Linked DNA regions of Homo sapiens: region 2 is linked to region 1. Evidence: fine-mapped expression QTL. A gene starts in region 1. The other region holds a variant in brackets. All regions are shown on one strand. Distances are from middle to middle. Region 1 holds the start of EPHA6 (EPH receptor A6). Region 2 has its middle 24 kb from the start of MIR8060.

What was found. PIP is the estimated chance that this variant, and not a neighbour inherited with it, causes the effect.
Region 2: its variant is fine-mapped to the expression of EPHA6 in esophagus muscle (GTEx, PIP 0.95).

What each region holds. Positions count from the first base shown.
Region 1 is chr3:96,809,777-96,819,496 of GRCh38, forward strand. It overlaps EPHA6 (EPH receptor A6), which reads left to right and starts at 4,818. Exons shown (of 18, transcript NM_001080448.3): 1 at 4,818-5,232. The coding sequence starts at 4,848. LOC124909397 (a long non-coding RNA gene) reads right to left here and starts at 4,631. Exons shown (of 2, transcript XR_007095974.1): 1 at 4,259-4,631; 2 at 1,045-3,334. RefSeq lists silencers at 3,654-3,723, 3,784-3,903.
Region 2 is chr3:96,330,720-96,340,439 of GRCh38, forward strand. No RefSeq gene overlaps it. Among named protein-coding and RNA genes, the nearest start is that of MIR8060, 24 kb to the right of the region's middle. The variant T/C (reference allele first, on the strand shown) is at 4,669.

The DNA of each region.
Region 1 (9,720 bases):
CATAAGTATAATAATTTGGAACTCCACTGTAGGAACACAGAGATTGATTTTAATTGGAATAGTTTTTTTTTGTTTTTTGTACTGTAATGTAATATAAACTTCTGAGAGGTAAGAACTAAATCCAAGTAATCTTTGTACTTTCTTTACGATGCTCAGCACAAATGGATGTGAAAATCTTGCTTGGCAAACGGTTACTGAATTAGAAAAGTACTAGAGAGAATGTTTTTATTGAATTTCATGCACACACATAGGTAATATGATATGTATATGACATATGTGCATATATTTTTCTTTCACTGAATGTAACACAAGAACCAAAATTCAATTATCACAGCAGAATCAACAATAGTACATTTTATGTAACTTCAAGTTGCATTTTTTTCTGTAAGGTTTCTAAGATATGATATGCTTAGAATTCACTGCTTTGAATGTTCTTTTCCAGAAAATTATTATCTACTTCCTAACACCAAAGCAAAATTTCTGAAGTAAACAATGTGTATGTTTTCCCCTAATTACATACTTCCTAAACGCAAAGAGACTCAAATTAACTATATTTGACATTGTGGATTTTATTTTTATTTTAGCGGTTTCAATGCTGAAACACATAGAATACAATCTTGTAACTAACATATTTTAAAGTTGATGGCATGAATATGATAATATTATTGCCTACAGCATGTCTTTACATTTTATATTATCAAAAAAGATTTATGCAATTTGTTCTTTTCAAAGTACATACCTAATCTTTTAAGACCTGATATTTTGTCATATTTGAGGATCAACATTCTTTTTATTTATGTTTTTTCTACCTTGACCTTAGAGAATGCAAATTGCTGCTGTGAATGGATTAATTTACTCTTTTACCAGAATAATATACTTAAGACTTTCTCAAGTCTTGAAACATGCTGAGTATTAAACATTATAATCCTTCTTTTTTTCTCAAAGGAAGTAATTGCAGGTTAAGTCTCTCCTCTTTTAATCATTTTAAAAAGCAAATAATATTTATGAATACTATTATTTCTACTATAAATAAAAGCACACCAGTTTTTAATGTCATATATCCTTTATTTAATAAAAAATTTCATCATTTCTTACCTGAATCCAGACCACATATATCGTGAAGAACAATAGTCTGAGAGAATACAGAAGAATTCTGAACAATATAGTTCTGAAAAATGAGACATGAATGCTTTTCTGAGTATGGGTATGATTCAAACAGACAAGTGCAGATAAATCTACATGAATATTGCATCTGGTTCATTGAGTAGCTTATAATTTTGAAACTGTCACATGTCAGCAAATATATCAACACTGCTAGAAAATCAAAAAGGAAGTACATTTCTAAGTGTAATTGCATCTAGCTTACATAGATAACCATGATTATATTTTAAATAAAATGTTAGCTTAATAAAAGAAATTATTGTTACACAAAGTAGTTTACCATTAACTCTTCCCTGAGTGAAGAGAATTTAGCACATAAAAAGAACTAAACAAATATTTTAGAGAGACATGCACATATATATTTGTGCATCTTTGTGTGTGTATATATATATATATATCACATATATATATAAACATATAAATGGTCAAACGGTCATGGTAATTCTTTTTTACAATCATGTTTTAACATTAATAATCATGTCAAACTCATGGAATCTTGCTATTGTCAAAGGCAATGATAATCATATTTTAACTCATTTTTTAGATGAGTTTTTACTTAAGATGTCATTATCTTCTAGGCATGCAATAGATAGCATCCAAACATACGTAAACATGTGAAGTATGTTTTAATATTGAGAAAAATCTTGTAATATTTTTTTCTTAAAAGCCAAGACAAGAATATGACTATCAATTATCTAACCAGATATATATGTCAAGCTTGACTTTGGCTCATTTAAACAAATACAAATTATGAACTGTAGCTGAATTGTAAGTACAGTGCATGGGGGGACTAGAAATTCAGGTTAATTAAGCGGATTATTGTTACTTTGAAGTAACAGGTTATGTTTCAGGCACTGTGCTATGATTTCTAACTAAGCGTGAATCCTAGAAATGAATCTAAGTTTTCCTCTCTATTTCTTTCTCCTTTTTTTTTTCTGCCTTTTCCCCTTCCTTCCACTAAAAGTACTGCCTTCTAGTCTAATTTTAAGTGAAACTTCTTGGTGTTTTATAACATATTCTCTAAAATGCAACACTCAAGTAAAACATCAGAACTTGATTTTAAACTTTGATTTTAAAATATTTTATGTTAGGAATTATACTGAAATAACTTCTTTTTGGTGATGTTCCATTAAAAATGTTTCCCTTGCAAGTCTAGTTAATTTCAAAAGTAAAAGTATAGAAATAGATTCACATGGTTTATATTTTTAAAATAATAATATTATACATTCCTTCAATTTATAAGGACTTTCTTGAACGATTTTTCTTTTAGTGAATTATTAATGAAGTTTATAGATTTACTGTAAGCCAACATTTAAAAATGAAAATTTAATTATAAAAGGTCATGGAAACATATTTTTGACAGTATATAAAAAGAGATTTTGAATAAAATTATCAGATAATGAATCATTAGAAATTTCTAAGAACATTATTTAGACACAATGATTTATATTATAATGGTGATAATGTAGTCTTTTTATTTTGTAACTGAGTTTATAAACTCTAAAATGAGTTTGCAAATGCTCATGTGGTCAATCAATATCAGTAAGAGTGGCAAAATGAGTATCAAAGTCAGATTTTACTCTTAAGTGCCGATATATAAACTCCACACATGGTATCTTTTTAGAAATGATTTGCATACATTTAAGTTGGTGTGGACACACCTTCAAAGAGAGGCAGAGGTGTATGAATTCCTAATGAGAATGAGAGTATAGTCACCAATCAGAACCCTTCCTCACATTCTCCAAATCGCTTGTATTTCACCATTTCTCTCCACGCAGCAGAATTTTTGACATGGGACATTTCTTGCTCTCATTCTTTCTTTCCTTCCAATTTACTGTAAGGCATTAAGTGAAACTTCTTCAGCTATGGTGTGTGGCACAAAAACATCGCAGCGCAGGAATGCATGGAATAGAAGGGTCCTTTCCCTTCCAGAACTCTGTAAGCGTCAAACGCCGACCCTTGGCTCCATCTCCCGCTCCCCTGACCTCTTGTCACTGTGCCATTTCCCTCCTGTGCTTTCTGCCCACTTGGAAAATATCGTATATCCTTTACAAGACCGCTACTTTCTCTCCTCTGTTCACATTTCTCCATTACCATCCACATTTTCTCAAAACATTCCGACGGGTTTTGAAGTGGGGTTTTCAACCTCCCTCGACTGTGATAGCCGAAGTCCCTTCAAGAAAGAAAAATGATGTTGGAAATACTAGTAACAAATAAAGTATCACGGAAATCCCCACCCAAGCGATACGGTTTCCTTGACGCGCCCTTAACCAAGGCGTTAAGTTTAGCCTGACAGCATCCCTCCCTCCTTTCGGTTCCTGGCCTGATGAGCCGCCTCCACCTGCGAGCGGTGCAGGCATTTTTGTTGTCGACTAACCCCCTCTAGCGCCGAACTGGCGGCATCCGAGCCGCGGCTGCCAGGCCGGGAGAAGGCTGGGCTTGGCCGGGCTCTGCAGCGCTCCGGGCTCCGTCCCTGCCCTGGGCGCCCGCCTCCGCCGCGGGGCGAGGTGGTGGAGACCGCGGACGCCGAGGGTCCTCCCAGTCAGCACGCCGCGTTGCCCCGGCCCTGGGGCGGGGGCCGCGGAGTCCCACCAAGTGGCCCGCGCCTCGGCTTCCGGGAGACCCGAGCGCGGGGAGGGAGTGGGTGCCGCGAGGGGGCGGCTCGCGCGGGGAGAGCCGTCAGCCCACGGCGCCCCTGCGCTGCTGTGGATGTGGCCACGCGCCACTCGGCCCTTGGACTGCTAGGAGAGCGCGGCCCGACGCCACCACGCCGTGGACGCTCGGGGACCCCTGAATCCCAGCGTCAAGGCTGCGACGATGCTCGTGACCTCCACCGCGAAGTCACCTCCGCAAGGCGACGCAAGGACCTCGGCGATCCCGGGCGCCGTACACCCGCCACTTTCCAGCCTCATGTAACCCCCCCTCTGCTGCTTCCTCCCGGCGCTTTGCTTTTCTACAACTGGAAGCCGCGAAGGCGGCTACTGCGCTGAGCCGCTCGCTCTGCTGGTCAAGTTTGGGCGACCCGCGCGGAGGAGGGTCGGGCTGACTGCCGCCGCTGAGCTGTCCCCGGACGGGAGCGCCTGTCCACGGCACTCACCCCCTCCAGCGGTGGAAATGTGGAGAAGTAAGTGGGAGGCGGTGTCGGGAACTGACTCCTCTTAAAACGGTCGGCGCCGCTGCTCTGAAATGGGCGGCTAAGTGCTTGTGGGACTAAGGGCGGCCTCAGAGATGCCCGGAAAATCGCTGCCACGGCCAGAGTGCGGCGCAGACGCGGCAGAGTTGGAGGTGTCCGCGGTGCAGGCTGCTGCCCACGCCGCTCAGGCCAGGTGCTGAGGGCTCAGCCCGCGCCTCGGCCGAACCACTCTCAGCCCCGTTGAGCCACCTCGTCCGCCCGGCTTTCATCGCACCGGCCAGAGGAAAGTTCCCGCGGCCCCCACGCCTCTTCACAGCTGCAGCGCCTCCCCTGCTTTTGGCTCCGCAAGTGCCCACTTGAGTCGGGAGAGGTCCTCGGGCCGCCCCAACTGCCCGCCCCACCTGGCAGTCCGTCCCCGCCCCCGTCCTCGCGGTGAGGCGCTCCCCGCCCCCTCGCTCCCCTCCCCCAAACCACAGCCCGAGCTCGCTCTTGCGCGCGCGCGCTCTCTCCGGCCCAAGTGAATAGTCCTCGCGCAAGCGGGACACTGTGGTGGATGCAATTCCCCTCGCCTCCAGCCGCGAGGAGCTCCCCGGCGCCGCAGGCAGCGTCCTCCTCCGAAGCAGCTGCACCTGCAACTGGGCAGCCTGGACCCTCGTGCCCTGTTCCCGGGACCTCGCGCAGGGGGCGCCCCGGGACACCCCCTGCGGGCCGGGTGGAGGAGGAAGAGGAGGAGGAGGAAGAAGACGTGGACAAGGACCCCCATCCTACCCAGAACACCTGCCTGCGCTGCCGCCACTTCTCTTTAAGGGAGAGGAAAAGAGAGCCTAGGAGAACCATGGGGGGCTGCGAAGTCCGGGAATTTCTTTTGCAATTTGGTTTCTTCTTGCCTCTGCTGACAGCGTGGCCAGGCGACTGCAGTCACGTCTCCAACAACCAAGGTAAGGGACGGGGCGGAGGAGCGGGAGTGGGTGGGAGGAGGAGGGTGCTTGGAGAACCAGGGTACTGGTTGCCTCCTGCAGGTAACTTTGTACAGGGGTCAGAGTCTCCTGGCTCGCCACACGAGGGGATCGAGGATGTCCCCTTACCCTAGCGCCCTGTTTACACCGCCCGGGACGGTGACTCCACAGGCTAGGATCCGTTGTGTTTCTAAATGTCTTTAAACGGTAGCGTGAGCATCAGCTGCAGTTGGGTCCCACCGCTAGCGGCCGTGGGACCGCTCCCCGCTGCGCTGTCTCCACTGGAAGTCAGGCTCCGTGGCACAGACTTAATGGAGACTTCTGGCTCTTTGGTGGTCGCTCTTCTCAGGGGAACGTGTGGTTCTCCCACATGCCTTCTTGAAAGGCAGGGTGCTCCCGCTGTACCCCGTGACCAGTTATCAGTCTTTCCCCACCCCTCCGGTGACTGCCGCCCTCGCCCAGCCTCAGTCCCCATGCTTCATCTACCATCCAGGCCACCGAAGTAGACTTACTCGAAATTCTTCCTAGACCAGATGCTCCAGATCTGTGTAGGGGTTTCATATTCTTGCGGGCAGGGAGTAGAAAAGGGTTTAGGGTGAATTTCCAAGTTGTGAATACCCTATTCATGAAGTCAAGTCACTGACAGATTGCTTGGAGGACTTTGTTTCGGTGGGTAAAGTGGTAAAGTGAAGGTAAATAGTGGTTAAAAAGTGATGGAAAGCCCTTGGAATATTTGAGCATTTTCCCTTTTTCTATTCATACAATCTTCATGAAATATATCTCCTTGTATTTCTGCTGTGCATAAAGATCTATAAAAAGTACCACCTGCATATTCTAAGTCCTTTCAGACTAAGCATGAAACAACCATAAAAGTTTCCCAGCATGTATCTGGCTAGATATTCTCTCACTCGTGCTGTAATGACCAACCGATATGTCCCTTCAAATATTATGTGTGGTAGTCAGTTATAGTTATCATTTAACACATAAGGCATATGTTTCAGAGTCTCGAAGTAATTTGCAGGTATAAAAATGGAGGTCAGATGGCTTGAAAGTGTTCACTTTTTGTGTGAGGAGAAGGTTAAGGGAGAAGATAAACAACACAGCATTCTTCTTTGTCATCAACATATATGGCCATTTTACTTAGAAATGTTCAGAATCAGAATAAAATATAATTATTAAATTGTTCTCATTTATACAGTGGTACTTTGGCATATTTTCCTAATTATTACAGTTATTTTAAACTGACAGAATGCAATCACAAATGTGTAGGTGAATTTGGAAACCATACATAACCTTCATGGCTTTGAAGATAGATCACATAATAGATATCAGTTACAGTGTCCTGTTTTGCTGTGGTGGTATATACCATCACACTACATCCCTCATTTATTTTCAAAGACTGTGGGTATAAAATATTGAATAGGTAGTTAACTTCATTTCTGTGAAGGTAGAAGATTGTTAAAAAACGTGTAACGATTACCCTTTTTTATTATGACAAAACAATTTTTAATAATTGGAAAGTCAGACATTGATACTGTACTTTATAATAGTAAGTAAGGATACTAGAGATGAATACTTTGAGAGTCAAGTGTACTAGAAGTTTGTAACAGTTGTTCCCATGCAATAATTTCCCCAAACAATGTTTATTTATTTAAATACCTATGATGCATCAGTAACTACCCTAGGCCCAGGGGATACTAACATAAATAAAACAGATATCTGAATCTACAAATGACCCTAAAGTGCCATTCTGCCAAAATATGTCCTGTTAAAGCATGACCTTTCAGACATTCATAGTAAATTTAAAAGCATCGAGATGTTATTTATTAACCTCTTCCAGTAATTTTTATTTGCTTATCTATTTTAATGACTTTCTCATAGTATTTACAGATGTTTGACCTAGAATATATGCCAAACATATGTAATTTATTTATTTTTATTAATTAGCTAAACTTAGTGAATGAGTATTATCCAATTTTCCCATCAGTTAAATAGAAGCATTAAAGATTGTCTACTTAAACTCTTAATTTGAATTTGTATTGATATACCGATAACACAGGCTGTGCATAAGAGTACAGTGGGCAAAATAGTACCTGAAGGTTAAATTGGATAAAATTTAGGTGACTTCTTCAAAAGAACATTATAATCAGAATTTTTATCAGACACAAATTATTACTTATAAAATGATGCTTTTTACAGCCTAAAGTCATAGTGAGTAGAAATTTTTCCTGATAATAAGTTGAGATAACTTTCAAATATTGAAATCATCACACTAATGGTTAATAAAATGCTAGGTTTCTAAATGTTATTCTTAATAACATTTTAGGGATATTTTCCTTACTCGTAGTTTCATAATGGATAAAATAAAGCATCTATTTTTAAACATGGAAAATGGGACATTATAGAATTATCATATGTATTCAACATGGAAAGATAAATGTAAAATATAAATTTGATTTATTATACACATAAAAATAAACAGTAATATAATTCATATTTAGTATTGAGAAGATAGTTTTAATTGTCCAATAATTTTCACTTTAAAGGCTAATGGAATTAATGTTTTAATTTTGAAATTTGTTATTTTATAGAGGGTAAAATTACATTTATATGTAACTTCTTCCTGATTAAAGATATTCACAAAATAAAATTTTAATGTTATATATCTGTTTTACCAAATTATATGACATCCTTCATGGCTGAAAAGAATGGATTCACCTTTCCCACAACCCCCACCCCAATCCCCATTTTTCCATACATAAGCAAGGTAAAATGATGATGATAATGACAAAAAAGTAAACTACCTCATTCTTTTAACGTGGTGCAAACAGTAACTTGACTATAGAAAGGATCTCTTCTCTTGTCTTTTAACTGAGTGTGAAGCTGACTGTAAAGATGAAATAAATCAATTTGACTCTCTCTTCCTATGAACCAAACCTCCTTGAATCGATCAGAAAGTAAAGGTTCTTCCTAGATCACTTCATCTGATTAAGTAAGTGGAAACATGAATTGTGTTTAAATCTCTCTCATAGTCAATTAATTTTCCCTGTATTTAAAACCACAGTATTAATTAAGTGTTGGAAATTTTTATTTTAAAAACATTTCATCTTTTCAAGGAATATAGCCTTTCATTTCTGTACTATACACTTATATGAATATAAAACACAATCTTGCTTCATGTATAAGTTAACCATTTACCGTGTATCACAGTGGCCAGTAGACACCAGGGATCCATTCATTCAAAGATTATTCTGCAGCAAATACTACTTTATAGCCTAAATGAGTTGATGCATATCTAAGGGTGTGGCTCATGCTTTTACAAATAATCAATTGCATACTCAAATAATTCAATTAAGTCAAAGTATGGTATGGGTAAGTTAGTCTAGTGAACTTATTTTATTAGCAATACTTTGTGAATCGATTTTCCCCCCAGGCAATTCAGTGACAAACAAAATAAGCAAAACAATAGTGTGGCTGGTTGATTTCATTAAATTTATTAATTTGAGCGAATCAACTGCATAATCCACTGAGTTGTATATAAATACAAATAAATATATCTAAGCAGAAAAACATCTGCTTAACAAAATTCATGGCCTAAAATTAGTTTTATCCATATGTTTTATTCACAAACTCTGATTGAATATTGTTCTTATATTTATAGAAATGGAGACATTGAGGAAATTTTTAAAGATTTTTCAAAAGTAAACATTAAAATGCTGAAAATATTAAAAATTTTGTTAAATTAGGAACACTGGATTACTTAGAATGTTTCTGAAAGACCATTCATTTAGAAGAAATTAGTTTTTGAGGATAAACTATTTATAGTTGTAAGGGTTCCAGAGATTGTTATCACATCACTTCTTGTTAGACATAAGTATAAATACAACTTAGAATATAATTTTATTATACATTTACAATATAAAATAAGTAATTGTATAATTAGTCATTATTGATTAGCATCCAAAGTACAAAGATAAAATGTTTTTATGCAGTTCCAGCAGTGATCATCTAATTGTTGTTTGTTCTGGTCTTGGGATAATACTATATCTAAAAGAAAATTTCTTGCACAAAAATTATACATAATCCTTAAGGAACTCTTCTTCAAACAAAAAATAACTTAAATGAATATAGTTGAAGTTAATTTAGTATTCATGACTATAGCACTTTTATATGAATTTCCTAAGGGAAAAGTATATATCTATTGGTACAGGGGAAATTAATGATTAAATTACATCCTTTTACTTTTTTGTTACTTTTACATCACAAAATAAGTATTAAAAAATATTAGAGTAGAAAGCCTTTTGCTTCTTTGTTTCTTCACTAATCATTGTTAGTATAAATGACTTAAGTACAAAAGATATAAATTTCCCTCTACCAACCCTTTTTCCCTATCACAATTTCAGTAACTCTCTCTCTTTCTCTCTCCCACCTCACATACACAAATGCTTCTGACTGCATGCTCCATTTGTT
Region 2 (9,720 bases), 480 kb before region 1:
CCATCCCAGAGCTTCCATGTCCTTCTTGTTGGCACCACCCCTCCAGCACCTTCCTGTGTTCAGCAACCTGAGAGTTCATCAAATCTTGTTGTTCAAGGGTTTTCAAAGAACTTAATTTTCACCCCTACCCTTTCCTATATGATGGCAGGTGGAGCTAAAAGTTCCAACCCTCCAATTCTCTAATAATTTGTTCTTTCTGGTGAATGGCCACAACCTGAGGCTACCTAGAGGCCCTGCCCCAAGTCATCTCATTAGCATAAGCTCAGGTGTTATAAAGGGACTCATGAATAACAAAAGACATTCCTATCACTAGGGGGTTTTAGGAGCTCTGTGACAGAAACCTAGGACGAAGACCAAATACATTTTATATTTCATATTGTACCACACAGACACTTCCATCACCCCCAGCAGTCTGCGTATTTCCTTTGCTCACTTACCCTCAATTCCTTGTAAATGGGTCATGGTGTGTCCTGCTTCTTGTAGAAATGTGATATTTTCCAGAAGTTTTTAAATTTTAGCCTTTATGTTAATAGTGATGCTCAATTCCAAGTTAATTTTTGTGTTTATAGTGAGGTTAAGGTCAACATTTAATTTTTTTCCATATTGGTAGCTATTGTTCTTGCAACATCTGTTGAAAAGACTAGCCTTTGTCCTGGGTATTTTATCAAAACTCAGTTGTGTATGTTTAATTTTTTACACCAATTCTCTTTTTTTAAATCTGTTTGTCTATCATTACACATTACACCAATACCAGGTAGTTATGAATAGTTGAATATTATATTGTTATAGGTAGTTAGGCATAAGTAGGCCAGGAGAGGGCTCTCCCTCACCAGATAGAAATGTAGGGTGACGGTTTGGCAATTTTCACATTGCCTCTCTAAAACTGATAAATTGGCAGCTGGCACCAGGGAGAGGCCATTTCCTGATGGTCCATACTTGTTGCACAAAAGTGTTAATTAAATGCAGGTGCCAAGGAGAAGTAACTTCTTGGGCATACACATTAAGAGACAAAATGGTGGAGTATGACCTTCTGGAGACACGAGTGGAAAAGGGAAGAAAGCCTCAGGTGGACATGTGTAAAACTTCCTAAACACACTGCACATGCTCACATCCCAAGGTTAAGGAGGGCACTGCCCATGTGGGGAGCCCACTCTAAGGGAATAATCATGGGAAAGGGACCAGCCTGTAAAGCCCTAGGATCAAGGTTAAACACCACACTTGACCTTCACGTGCCCACTTGGGTTTCTTCCAAGTGTACTTTCCTTTTTTTCCTGTTATACAGCCTTTTTAAATACACTTCCACTCCAGCTCTGAAACTTGCCTTGTTCTCTTTTTCTGCCTTATGCCTCTCAGTCGAATTCTTTCTTCTGAGAAGGCAAGAATTGAGTTTGCTGCAGACCCATACAATTGGCCACTGGTAACTCGGATACCTGCCACTGGTAACATATGTGGTGCTGTGAGGCTCAGATATTTGCCACCCCTAACAATAGTAAGATTGAACTCAAAGAATGTGAGGCCGGGTGCGGTGGCTCACGCTTGTAATCCTAGCACTTTGGGAGGCCAAAGTGGGCTGATAACTTGATGTCAGGAGTTCCAGACCAGCCTGGCAAACATGGTGAAGCCCCGTCTCTACTAAAAATACAAAAATTAGCCAGGCGTGGTGGTGGGCACCTGTAATTCCAGCTACTTCGGAGGTTTAGGCAGGAGAATCACTTGAACCTGGGAGGTGGATATTGCAGTGAGCTGAGATCACGCCACTGCACTCCAGCCTGGGTGACAAAGCGAGACTCCATCTCAAAAGAAAAAAAAAAAAAAAAGAATATGAGACTCACATTAGTGTCAAACATGTTTGGTTCTTTCTAAGTCTAAAATTCTATGATTTCATTATTTCATTAATTCAACTAAAATTATGGAATGTTTACTTTGTACTAGCTACTTTGTTCCAAAATGAAAATGAAAACAAGAAAATGTATTTCTCAGGACTTCGGAGTCTAAATATAAAACTACAAACTGTTAAAATAGAAATGAATACCAAATATTATATAATAGAAAATAGAAAATGTAGGAATTAAATTTGCCTATGTACGTCAGAATGGCTTAAAAGACTACTCTTATAGTGGGATTTTCTTTCTCTTTCTGAGACAGAGTAAAGACAGAACTCAGCCCCTCCCTATACCCCACCAAGGACGTCTACTGCAAGCTAATTTGGTGGAGCAGGCATGGCCAGCAGGGACCCCACCGGACTGTCCAGACCTTGCACCATAAACCTTACTCAAGGTACCTAACTGACCAACTGTGTCACCATGAGGAGACTAAAATTAGCAGCTTTTGCCATAAATCTTACTAAAGGGAATTAAAACGTGGAGACCCACTATAAGTTTTACCCGCTGAAGATAACCATATTACCCATACGCTCAGAAGATCAAAATAATGATCAGTCTTTGCCCTTTGCCTCACTGTAATATCAAAAATCACAGCCAGGGGTGGAGATTTAACATGCTAATGAGACATGCAATACATGAAGAAGCATGTTATCAGACTGCCCAGATACCAGACGTTCCCCACCTCTAAATGCTTACATGTCACTTCCTTCCCATTTTAGCTCCTTTAAAATTACTCTCCTGACTCTCTTCAGAGAGGCAGGCAGAGAATTTTCTCTCTCTTATGCCTGGGCATAGAATCAAATAAAGTTTTGCTGGGAAAACTCCTTTGGCCTTCTGTCAATTTCTATTGCATTGATAGCACAAGAATCTGTGTTTGGTAATATATTAATTGGGGGCTCATATGAGATCATGGGACACGGAGCGCCCTTTCTCCCATGATGGGGGAGATTCGTGGGCTAAAAGGACTGCTGGACAAGATCACTACACAGCTAGTGAGACGCCCCCTGAATCTTTGATTCAGTGTCACCACAGCTGGTGAGTCTTTCTTCAACCTCCAGAGCTCCTTGCCACCTCCACTGAGCCATGCTCTTTTCCCTTCCCTTCCTCTCTCTTTACTCTCTTTTCCCTTTCCTATCTTTTCTGCCACTCAGGGTGCCCCTCCTCTCTTCCTCACTTCTTAACACAGAAAGTTGGATCTAAATGGACATCCATATGAGACAAGTTGAAACAGTCAACTCAGTTTTACCAGTCTGGGACACTTGAATATATATTTATAAAGGACAGATTGAAACAGCTGATCTGAGTATAATCAACCCAGTTGTCAGTGAGATGGGTTTCACTTCATCCTTCACATTAGTTGATTTGGGTTTGAGTCCCAGGAAATATATATCTCTCTCTCCCTTTTTTTTTCTCTCCTTATGTACCTAGATTTTGATTTTGTATCTTTGTGTAAAACTCATCATTAATGCTTTGCTTCTCTTTGCCACACTTCTGGCCTTCAGGAAGGCACCAGGCACATCTGAGTGTGACAGTAATTATTGGTTTTCTGCACAATAAAAAAAGTTCAGAATGCTAATAATCTGTAACTACAGATTTAAGTCAAGTCGTCTAACATTCTCTATCTCCCCCTATTTCTTTTCTGCCTGCTTTGCATCTGCTATTGTTAAGCTGCTGGTGATGAGATAAGACTCAATGTTTATGGTTTAACTGAAATGTAAACTTTTAAAAAACTTGTTTAAAACTAAAGAAAAAAAGAGGTAAAAGAGAGTTTTAAAACTAAACTACCATACAGGCTACTTTATCCAAATTTGGTACACAGCTTTCCTTAGATTACTTATCAGGACAGGAAAAGTTTAGCCATATGAACAGGTTACAATTTTGTTAGAAAAATAATTTGAATCCAGCTATATTTTATAAAATGGTGAGTTCATATTGCTGTCTTTTATAAAATGACTAGAATTCCAAGGTAAAAGCTATTGAATCTTTGTTTATGTGTATGTCCACATGTTTAGATGTGTTTATGTACATATATTATGATATATGTTTTGTCTAGCAGAATACCAAATTGGCTTATAAGTAAATGAGTACTCGCAACTTAAATCCATTGCTCTTTCGTTTCATATGACTTCAACAATTGTTGATAAATACAGACAATTTTAAAGATTTTTGGTAAAATAAAATTTAAAACTTCTTCACTATTTAGCCTTGGTCTAAATTAAGCAGGTCAGAAACTTCGTTCACAAGGTGCTTTAAGGTCATAAACTGATTCTATGACATTTTTGATAATTGTTTCACTTGTCTGTTTTACAGCTATTAGAATCTAGGTAAGGCCTGGAGACATGTGAAGTTAGCTATGTGCCCTGGCTAGGCTGGGAAGACTCAGATACTGTCTGCAGCTCTGTCCTTGTTCTGGGCTCTGCAATCTGATACATGGTTAAAATTTTTACTAACCAAGTTTTTCACTAAAATTAAAAGTTGTTAAGAGATAATATTGTAACATTTCTAAGTGAGACTACTGGAAAAACAGTTTTACATGTAAAGTATGTAAAGTAAAAAGTGTTTTTTTAATAAAAGGTCACAAAAAGGTATTGAAATATGGCTTTTGTTATAGGAAAAATAATTTTCTTGAATTTAGAGGCTTATACAGATCATCCTAAATTCAAAGAATAATACTACAGAACTAAAGTTTTAGCAGGTTATAAAAGATGTATAAAAGTTTAATCTTATAAGGAAAGTTAGGTGTGGAAGAAAGCTAGCCAAAATTTGAAGGGGATTTTTTAGGTTA[T/C]TTTTTTCTGTCTTTATTAGGTCTTGTTATTTGGAAAGCTGAGTCACCCTTGTATAAATAACTAAAGGATTTCACTTTTTTGAAATGTTTGAGTTAGCACTTTGGCTAAATAAATAACCTGAGATCCTATTTTGTGATGTTGAGTGTTTTAAACCTTTGATATTTGACAAAATTTCTAAAATCAAGTCAAAAAGAGACATTTGGCTTATATAACATATTAAAATTATACAAGAAACATTGTCAAGTGTAAAATAAATGTTTGGCTTTGATGGAGGAATGTTTGAATAAAAGTATTATTAATATGTGTTCCAGAATTCCACAGGACTCCGTTATTTTGGATATGTCTCAATTATAATATTTTCAGTAATATTTATGTTTACGTTAAATTGTTGTATATCATAAAATAACCAAATTTTATTTTCAGTTGTGTCATTAACCATGGTTGTTCTGAAATTTTTGTCATCTGCAATTGTTGTTTTACTTTTTGATCCTTCTCAGAAAGTGGTTTTATAATCAGCTGTAGGTCTCTGACAGTTGCTCTTGAATGCAGGTTTCTAATAACTAGAGATTGGGCCATTAGGATAGAGCAAAAAACTTCAAAGTCCCTCTTGAAGCACTAATATGTTTCTAAATATTGATTAAAACAAGAGTTACCTGCATGAACTAAACTAATAGAAGTTTTAAAAAAAACTTCTTATGACTGTGTTTTCTCTAATTGCTATTGCTTTTTTTGTTTTGTTTTTCAGAGCCAAAACACTTTTTTTTTAGTTTTTTTTTACAGCTTTCAACAATAGAGGAAAATATACTCCTAGAAGCAAAATTTAGAACATACTTCTTTATCTCTACCAAATTTCTCCAGAATATAAAAACTATTTTTGTGTATTCTTAACTTATGTCAATACAGTTTTTAGCATAAGTGAAATAAGAATCAATTTTCTTTTCTAACAAGACACATTTAGAGACTTGTGTTTTTACCAAAGCTTTAACTGCAATGGCATGCTTTATAAATTGAAGATGACTTATAGACCTGATAAAAACCCTTTGGAAAAACTGGCCTCATACCTTGAGTATATAGTCCTTGTACAGGATTTCCCACCTGTGGTAAGTAAAGAATGGCACTTTCTAACAGGTCTAGAAACCCCAAGTTATATTGGGATCTCAACAGGACAGGCATTCACCCAATTCATACAGGTATTTGCAGGCACAGATAAATCTGTGGCTTGGCTCAAGGCTTGAAAACATCTAATCTGAGATCCCTTATGAAAATGAGTTTCAGCAAAGTGAAGTTGAAAAAAAAAACAAACAAAACAAAACAAAACAGAATGACTATAAATCTATATGTCAAATATTTTTTCTTGGTACACTTTATGCAAAGAAGCAAGGCCACTATAATAACATTAAAACTTATTTTGCAAACAAATTGGTCCTATTAGTTTTGTCTAAAAATGGGAAACTGGAGAGAGAAAAATAATGTTTCAAAAAACACTATAATAAAACTGTTCTTAGATTTCAGCCTTTTCCATTGTTTTTGAGTTTTTTGAATTTTTTCTATAATTTAGACTACATCTCAAGTTATTTCTGGGCTACCAGTCTCCTAACTTACATTTCCAAGTTTTTCTGCAGACCAAAATAACACTAATGGCTGAAGCTTATTTCTTATAATAGAGGTGAGCCCATGGAGGACCTCAAGTACCTGTTCAAGAAGGCCAGTTTACAGACAAATATATTACCTGTCTCTAAGTCTGATGATTTTCCTGATGATATTGATTGCCTTGCGGATATTTTGTGACTTTTCTTAGCCCACTCCCCTGGACAAAAATTTCCTTTGTCCTTGTTGGGTATAGGGAAATAGACCATGCTGCTCAGCAAGGCTGTAATCCCTTTCCTTCCTTGACTGTTAGAAGGGAAAATGATAGCAGTTTAATGCCTTGATCCCAACAATACTGGCAGTGATTGGGCTGTGATATATATTGCACCACCCCACCAAAAAATCAAAGTATTCTCCAATAGCCTTGATAGTACGTATCGGCCAACAAGAAAGTCAAAGCAAGCAGTTGGTATTCTAATTAATGAAATAGTAACCTTAATTGATTCCTTGATAGGACTAGCCAGGGAAATAGTTTACAACAATACCGTCACACAAAATGTTACAGTCATTATATCCACAGTGGCAGCTGGAATGGGACAGAATGTTAAGCTCATACAAAAGTTGTTAGACTCCCTGGCTTCAATGATCCTAGACCATCAATTAACCTTTGATTACTTACTGACTAAAAAAAGAGAATTATGTGCTATTACAAATATATCCTATTATTTCTACATTAATGTTACTGGAGAAATAGAACAAAGGACAGGACTCATCCTCCAACAGGCTACATGGCTATTGTTATGGGTTGGCTGTGTCTCCACCCAAATCTCATCTTGAATGGTAGCTTCCATAATTCCTACATGTGTGGGAAGGACCCAGTGGGAGACAACTGAATCATGGGAACAGTTCCTTCCCTACTGTTCTCTTGGTAGTGAATAAGTCTCAGGAGATCTGAAGGTTTTATAAGGGGAAACCTCTTTCCCTTGGTTCTCCTTCTTTCTGGTCTGTCACCACGGAAGGCATGCCTTTACCTTCCACCATGATTTTGAGGCCTCCCCAGCCACGTGGAACTGTGAGTCCATTAAACTTTTTTGTTTATAAATTACCCAGTCTTGTGTATGTCTTTATCAGCATGTGAAAATGAACTAATACAGTAAATTGGTACCAATAGAGTAGAGCACTGCTGTTAAGATACCTGAAAATGTGGAAGTGGCTTTGGAACTGGGTAAAAGGCAGAGATTAGAGCAGTTTGGAGGGCTCAGAAGAAAACAGAAAAATGAGGGACAGTTTGGAATTTCCTAGAGACTTGTTGAATGCCTTTGACCAAAACACTGATAACAGTATGGACAATGAAAACACGTCCAAAGTAGTCTCAGATGGAGATGAGGAACTTGTTGGGAACGAGAATAAAGTTGACTCTTGTTATGTTTTAGCAAAGCGACTGGTGGCATTTTGCCCCTGCTCTAGAAATTTGTAGAACTTTGACTTGAGGGAGATGATTTATCTGGTTATCTGGCAGAAGAAATTACTAAATTTCTAAATTTCTAAGCAGCAAAACATTCAAGAGGTGTCTTTGGTGCTGTTAAAAGCATTCAGTTTTAAAACGCAAACAGCATAAAGGTTTGGAAAATTTGTAACCTGATGATGCCATTGAAAAGAAAAACCCATTTTCTGGGGAGAAACTGAAGCCGGCAACAGAAACGAGCAAAGTAATGAGGAGCCAAAAGTTAATCACCAAGACAATGGGAAAAAAATGTCCCCAGGACATGTCAGAGAGCTTTTTGGCAGCTCCTCCCATCACAGGCTAAGAGACCAAGGAGAAAAAATGGTTTCTTGGGCCAGGTCCAGGGCCTCACTGCTATGTGCAGCCTAGGGACTTGGTGCCCTGCATCCTAGCCACTCTAGCCATGGCTAAAAGGGGCCAAGGTACAGCTCGGTCTGTGGCTTCAGAGGGTGCAAGCCCCAAGCCTTGAAAGCTTCCACATGGTGTTGAGCCTGTGAGTGCATAGAAGTCAAGAACTGAGGTTTGGGATCATCCACTTAGATTTCAGAGGATGTGTGGAAATGCCTGGATGTCCAGGAAGAAGTTTGCTGCAGAGACAGGACCCTAATGGAGAACCTCTGACAGGCCAGTGCAGAGGGGAAATGTGGGGTTGGAGCCTCCATACAGAGTCCCAGCTGGGGCACTGCCTAGTGGAGCTGTCAGAAGAGGGCCACCATCCTCCAGATCCCAGAATGGTAGATCCACCTACAGGTTGCACTGTGCACCTGGAAAAGCCACAGACACTCAATGCCAGTGCAAGAAAGCAGCCAACATGGGGCTGTACCCTGCAAGCCACAGGGGCGGAGCTGCCTAAGACCATGGGAACCTACCTCTTGCATCAGCGTGAACTGGATATGAGACATGTAGTCAAAGGAGATCATTTTGGAGCTTTAAGATTTGACTGCCTGCTGGATTTTGGATTTGCATGGGGCCTGTAGCCCCTTTGTTTTGGCAAATTTCTCCCATTCAGAATGGCTGTATTTACCAAATGCCTGTATCTCCATTGTGTCTAGGAAGTAACTAACTTGTTTTTGACTTTACAGGCTCATAGGTAGAAGGGACTTGCCTTGTCTCAGATGAAACTTTGGACTGTGGACTTTTGAGTTAATGCTGAAATGAGTTAAGACTTTGGAGGACTGTTGGGAAGGCATGATTGGTTTTGAAATGTGAGGACATGAGATCTGGGAGGGGCCAGAGGTGGAATAACATGGTTTGGCTGTGTCCCTATCCAAATCTCATCTTGAATATCAGCTCCCGTAATTCCCACATGTAGTGGAAGAGACCCAACCCAGTGGGAGGTAATTGAATCATGGGGGCAGTTTTCTCCCTACTGTTCTCCTGGTAGTGAATAAGTCTTACGAGAGCTGATGGTTTTATAAGGAGAAACACTTTTCACTTGGTTCTCATTGTCTCTTGTCTGGCACTGTATGAGACATGGCTTTCACCTACCACCATGACTGTGAGGCCTCCCCAGCCATCTGGAACTGTGAGTCCATTAAACCTCTTTTTGTTCATAAATTACCCAATCTTGGGTATGTCTTTATCTGTGGTAAGAAAATGGACTAATACAGCTATATAATTTTAATAACCCCTCTGCTAAAACCATCTGGGACTCTATTAAAAAATCTACCAAGCATTAGTGGTTCCTGCCTTTTCTGGGACCAGTGATAATCATTTTATTATTATTTTTTTTGGCTCCTGTCTTTTTACCTTTTGGTAAAGTTTATATCTTCCAAGCTCCAATGGTTCCACATATAGCTGATGAAGTCACAAGCATTTCAACTCATACCATCCCAAGGGGAGTCTAGTCACTATAAATCAATAGATCAGTCAGTAAGGCATTTGCAGAACTTTCAAATTTAGTCAGGGTCGATAGCTTGGCTCACCAAGAAACAACTCCAGAAAATGAAACCTCTGATTC